2 separate regions of the Homo sapiens genome follow, and region 2 is linked to region 1. Evidence: fine-mapped expression QTL. A gene starts in region 1. The other region holds a variant in brackets. All regions are shown on one strand. Distances are between the middles of the regions.

What was found. PIP is the estimated chance that this variant, and not a neighbour inherited with it, causes the effect. A credible set is the group of variants that fine-mapping cannot tell apart.
Region 2: its variant is the best candidate, but not a certain one, in a credible set for the expression of TMEM165 in nucleus accumbens (GTEx, PIP 0.72).

The regions. Positions count from the first base shown.
Region 1 is chr4:55,394,647-55,397,548 of GRCh38, forward strand. TMEM165 (transmembrane protein 165) reads left to right here and starts at 1,311. Exons shown (of 6, transcript NM_018475.5): 1 at 1,311-1,750. The coding sequence starts at 1,544. RefSeq lists silencers at 1,117-1,316, 1,517-1,986.
Region 2 is chr4:55,361,995-55,364,896 of GRCh38, forward strand. It overlaps SRD5A3 (steroid 5 alpha-reductase 3), which reads left to right. Exons shown (of 5, transcript NM_024592.5): 3 at 2,080-2,277. Among named protein-coding and RNA genes, the nearest start is that of LINC02928, 14 kb to the right of the region's middle. RefSeq lists an enhancer at 2,582-2,902. The variant A/C (reference allele first, on the strand shown) is at 1,442.

The DNA.
Region 1 (2,902 bases):
TGAGGTCTGGAGTTCGAGACCAGCCTGACCAACATGGAGAAACCCCATCTCTACTAAAATTACAAAGTTAGCCGCGTATGGTGGAGCATGCCTGTAATCCCAGCTACTCGGGAAGCTGAGGCAGGAGAATCTCTTGTACCCGGGAGGAGGAGGTTGCAGTGGGCCGAGATCTCACCATTGCACTCCATCCTGAGCAACAAGCGCGAAACTCCGTCTCAAAAACAAAAACAAAGAAAACAACAAAACAAAAAAACAGACGGAAATTTTATTATCCTGTGACAAACACTGTATCTTTGGTGAACTCAAAGTAGGTTTGCCCACTTTCCCACAGATTGTTTTGGTGGATTAATTTTTTGTTTCAGTTAGTGATAAACTTCCTTAGCTCTTTACTGAGTACAGGTTTACTGTATGTAAATATGTATAATATTAGATTAGTGCCTGGCACATGGTTAGCACTATCGATTTTTATTAGGGACTAGGTCTCAAACTTATGGTAATTAAGTAGCTCACTTTTTCTTTTGGGAAGACGTAAAAATATTCTCAAGCCTAACTCAAGACCATCCTTTCCTGTCTTCTAGTCTTGCCCACTCAAAGCTCCATCCTGCAAAAGTCTTAAACAGTCCATTTCAAAAGCCCAGCATTTTTAAAGGGTCTAAGGAATAGCACAAAACAAGATGCACCCAAAACGTCAAGGCCATACTGGACAAGGGCAACGTTAGCCATTTTTGGTCTGGGGTAATTATAGGCAGTATCTTAAAACAAGGCTTGAAAAATGTCATGTTATTTCCAAATCCCATTTCAGAACTTTAAAAAAAAAATAGCATTTTGAGCTCCTAAGAACGTTTTTGGCGGTAGGTGGCCACATGGAGGGTGGCACAGAGGCTCGGCGGGGGAGAGCGGAACAGAGCTGGGCGTGGCAGTGCCTGCGAGTCAGCGCCACGTAACCAGAGGCGCTCGCACTAATTTGACCTCTAAGAGAGACTAAGCGCAGGGAACAGCGGGTGCGGACATTACGGCGGAAGGCTCTGGAGGAAGCAGAAGTGAAGGACCTCGCAGTCCTGGGACGGTGGGGCACAGAGAGAGAAAGGGAGCCCCGGGCGCGGCGCGGTGAGGATGCGAGCAGAGGAAGGACACGCGGCGCCGGGTACCTGCCGGGAGCGCCGGATCCAATGGGAGGAGGGCCCGCGCCGCACCTCAACCTGGCAGAGGACGTCACGACGCCAAGGCGGTCGCCGGGCCAATGGGAGGCCGTCGCGGGCAGGGACGGGGCCGGGAGGAGTCGGGGCTGGGCCGCGCCGAGGCAGCTGGCTGACTCCAGTTTAGCCGCCGCCGGAGAGGACGGGCGCCGAGCCGGGGCTGCGGACTTCGGCCTGCCCCTCACCTCACTCCCGCTGCTTGCACCTCCCGGATGGTGCTGACTGCTCCCTAAGCGGCGGCGGCGGCGAGTCGTGAGGACGCGCCGCGGAGGCTGTTCGGGGTCGAGGCTTCCCGTCGCCGGCACTTCCTCTTGCGGCGCCCGTGCGCGGCCGGCCCGGCAGGCGGGATGGCGGCCGCGGCTCCAGGGAACGGCCGCGCATCGGCGCCCCGGCTGCTTCTGCTCTTTCTGGTTCCGCTGCTGTGGGCCCCGGCTGCGGTCCGGGCCGGCCCAGATGAAGACCTTAGCCACCGGAACAAAGAACCGCCGGCGCCGGCCCAGCAGCTGCAGCCGCAGCCTGTGGCTGTGCAGGGCCCCGAGCCGGCCCGGGTCGAGGTGAGCGGGCCGGGATGGGGCGAGCGAGGCTGCAGGGCCGGCTGCGCCGAGTACCAGGCTCCAGGCCTTTGAAAGCGCCGCACTCCGCCGGCCTCGGCTGGGGGAGGGGAGCCCGGCCCCTGCTCCCGGGGTGGAGGGCGGTCGGCTGCGCTGTTTTCCGGTGAGGCCTGGTCTTGCCCGCTCCTTTAGGGAAAGGGAGAGGGAGAGTCCAAGAGGAGCCCGCTATAAACGTTGATCTCCGGAGGGCCAAGATGCTGCTCCGGGATGGGCGTTTTATTGATCAGATGTGTCTTAGAGTAGCTAGAAAGACTCATCCCTACCAAAAAGTTTTTAACAGAAGGCTGCTAGGAGGCTTTTTGTATTCCCTGAGGATCATCACATCGGCCATTTCATTGTTGAAATAGCTTATGCCAAACTGCTTACCCAAATTCAACTTGGCACTGCCTGTGCTTTTTGCCAAATATGGATTATGAACCATGACTCTCACTTTTTAAAAATGTGCTTTGGCTAGCAGGAAGTAGCCTTTAGGAACGCAGAGGAATTAGTCTCCGGCAGTACAGCGTGCTGCAGCGATGTGGGATGCCAAAACTACATTTATAAGTAAAACAGAATCCTGTATTTTGTCCTTCCCTGAATAGATACTAGAAATCAACTTTTTAATCTGTTAATAGAATTAGTCCTTAGTCACTTGGCAGCGTTTTAACATTTCTCCCTTCTCCCAGTCGTGGGCTTTGTCGTCATTTCCAGTATCTGCTCCCTGAATCCCGGCCAGTGTGGCACTCAAACCCCCACTCCCACCCAGGCCACATCCAGCCCATCTCCACGTAACTAATCTTCCCGAACATTGAATTCTGCCATCTTGTCAGAAGTCGTCGGTGAGTTGCCTCCACTAATTTCAGTCCAGCCTTTTTAGGAGAGTGATGTTCAGGTTTCTTCTGATCTGGCTCCAGCTCACCTCCAGGCTTTTTAGCCACCGCTTTCTTGCTCATATGCTAAAGGGATATGCTCATCTGCAAAAAAGAATGTGCTTCAAGAGCCCTTTGGGACAGGCTTTGTGCTCTCTTGCCAGTTCCTCCCTAACACAAGACCTTTTCAAAGAAAAAAAAAAAAAGACCTGGAGTTTGAAGCCACGGATCAACTCTTCCCACCTTG
Region 2 (2,902 bases), 33 kb before region 1:
TTAAAACTAAGTTTTAGTTCATTTAAAATACAAAAACAGTCAAAGCTAATCTGTGCTGATAGGGGTTGTTCCCCATGGGAAGTTTGGGGGAGGGGTCGTGCCTACACTAGGGGGTGCTGTTCGTGTTCTGTTTCTTCTTTTTTTTTTTTTTGAGATGGAGCCTTGCTCTGTTGCCCAGGCTGGAGTGCAGTGGCCTGATCTCAGCTCACCACAACCTACCCCTCCCGGGTTCAAGCGATTCTCCTGCCTCAGCCTCCTGAGTAGCTGGGACTACAGGCATGCGCCACCATGCCCGGCTAATTTTTGTATTTTTAGTAGAGACAGGGTTTCACTCTGTTGGCCAGGCTGGTCTTGAACTCCTGACCTTGTGATCCGCCTGCCTCAGCCTCTCAAAGTGCTGGGATTACAGGCATGAGCCACCGCATCCAGCCTGTTTCTTTTGTTTGTTTCATTTTTTTCTTTCTTTTTCTTTTTTTAAGAGAGAGGGTCTCACTCTGTTGTACAGGCTGGAGTGCCGTGGCATGATCATAGCTCACTGCAGCCTTTAACTCCTGGGCTCGAGCAGTCCTCCCTCCTCCACCTCTTGAGTAGTTGGGACTACAGGTGCACGCCACTATGCCCAGCTAATTTTTTTTTTAATGTTTTTAGAGATGGGGTACCTGCTGTGTTGCCCAGGCTGGTCTCAAACTCCTGGTCTCAAGCGATCCTCCAACCTCAGCTTCCTAAAGTGTTCTGTTTCTGGATCTGGGTGCTGTTACATGGGTGGGATTGGTTGGCTTAATTTGTAAAAGTTAATTAAGTTGCATCTTTATGGTGTGCATGCGTGTGTGTGTGTTTGTGTGTGAGACTTTTTTTTTTTTTTTTTTAATGGAGACAGAGTCTTGCTCTATCTCCCAGGCTGATTGCAGTGGCCCAATCTTGGCTCACTGCAACCTCCACCTCCCAGGTTCAAGCAGTTCTACTACCTCAGCCTGCCAAGTAGCTGGTTCTACAGGCGCACACCACCATGCCTGGCTAATTTTTTGTATTTTTAGTAGAGACAGGGTTTCACCATGTTGCCCAGGCTGGTCTCGAACTCCTGAGCTCAGGCAATCCACCCGCCTCCAACTCCCAAAGTGGTAGGATTACAGGCATGAGCCATCGCCCCCGGCCGTGACTCATTTCTTTTTTAAGTGACTGGGCGTGGTATCTCACACCTAAAATCCCAGCACTTTGGGAGGCTGAGGCTGGAGGATGGCTTGAGGCCCGGAGTTCGAGACCAGCCTGGGCAACAAAAAAAATTTTTTTTTAATTAGTCAGGTGTGGTGGCACATGACTATAGTTCTAGCCACTCAGGAAGCTGAGACAGAGGATCACTTGAGCTCAGGAGTTCAAAGCTGCAGTGAGGCCTGACTGTGCCACTGCACTCTAGCCTGGGTGACAGAGCAAGACCCTGTCTCAA[A/C]AATAAAGAAGTTGACACATAAAATTAACCAAAAAATAAAAAACAAAAAAGAAAAAAAGAGAAACTAAGTGTGTGTTTTTTTAAAGCCAGCTTTTCTTCAGATTTTTTGGTGGGCAGGTCGTGAAAGACAGGTGAGGAAGTAGATCTTGGGCTCAGCATGCCTCTAAAAGTATAATTTCTTTTTTTTAATGTGGAAAGAAATGCATAACTCTGTTTCTGTTCCTGTCCCCCTCTCTGCCTCTGTGATGCCTGAGATACTGGGGATCCCACAGCTGGGGCCACTCAGAGGCTACCAGGAACGCTTCCAGTTTGCATCTGGCTGTTAGTGCCAGGACCAGAAACCCACAGACCTCTTCACAGACCTCCTGACCGTGATGTCCCTGAAGCCTGGAAGGCTGTCACACAATGAAGCAGAATTGAGTGATGGGTGTTTGTGAACCCAGTGAACTGTGTAACACAGTGAACTGTGTAATTTGAGTGAAGTCAAATTCCTTGACTTCATTTGGCCCATTTCTTCCTTACTACCAAAAAGAAAGATGTTAGATGGGATTTAATACTTTGCTTAACAGTACAGAAAAACAAAACTTTGGATTAATCCCAGAAGAGAAATGCTGACCCTGTTGCCTTCTGAATTGTAGGAGGGGAGCTGGCACTGTCTGCATTCTTAGTGCTAGTATTTCTGTGGCTGCACAGCTTACGAAGACTCTTCGAGTGCCTCTACGTCAGTGTCTTCTCCAATGTCATGATTCACGTCGTGCAGTACTGTTTTGGACTTGTCTATTATGTCCTTGTTGGCCTAACTGTGCTGAGCCAAGTGCCAATGGATGGCAGGAATGGTGAGTGGATCCAGCCCTGCCAGGAGCTCCCCACCCCAGGGTGTATGATGCGCTCTCGGGGCTTGTGCTGTGCTAAGCATTATGAGACATGCAGAAGTAAGAGACAGGCCCAATGCATTTTGCATTTCAGGAGATGAGACTCAAGTCGATTTTAAAAGGCCGGGCGTGGTCGCTTACACCTGTAATCCCACCACTTTGGGAGGCTGAGGCAGGTGGATCACTTGAGGCCAGGAGTTCGAGACCAGCCTGGCCAACATGGTGAAACTCTGTCTCTACTAAAAATTAAAAAAAAAAATTAGCCAGGCGTGGTGGCACACGCCTGTAGTCCCAGCTACTGGGGAGGCTGAGGCAGGAGAATTGCTTGAAACCAGAAGGTGGAGGTTGCAGTGAGCCGAGATCGCGCTACTGCACTCCAGCCTGGGCAACAGAGCGAGACTCCATCTCAAAAAAAAAGAAAAGAAAATGAGGGAAGGGAGAGTGCTTGCATGGAGTTGGGATTTGCAGAGGGGGTGGGGAGCCATTTTGTTGCCGCTTAGTTCCTGTGATTGTTCCCATCACAATAGAGCTTTTCTTCAAGTGACGCTGCCTGAGAGGAGAGGACAAAGAGTACTGTGGTAGTGAAAAT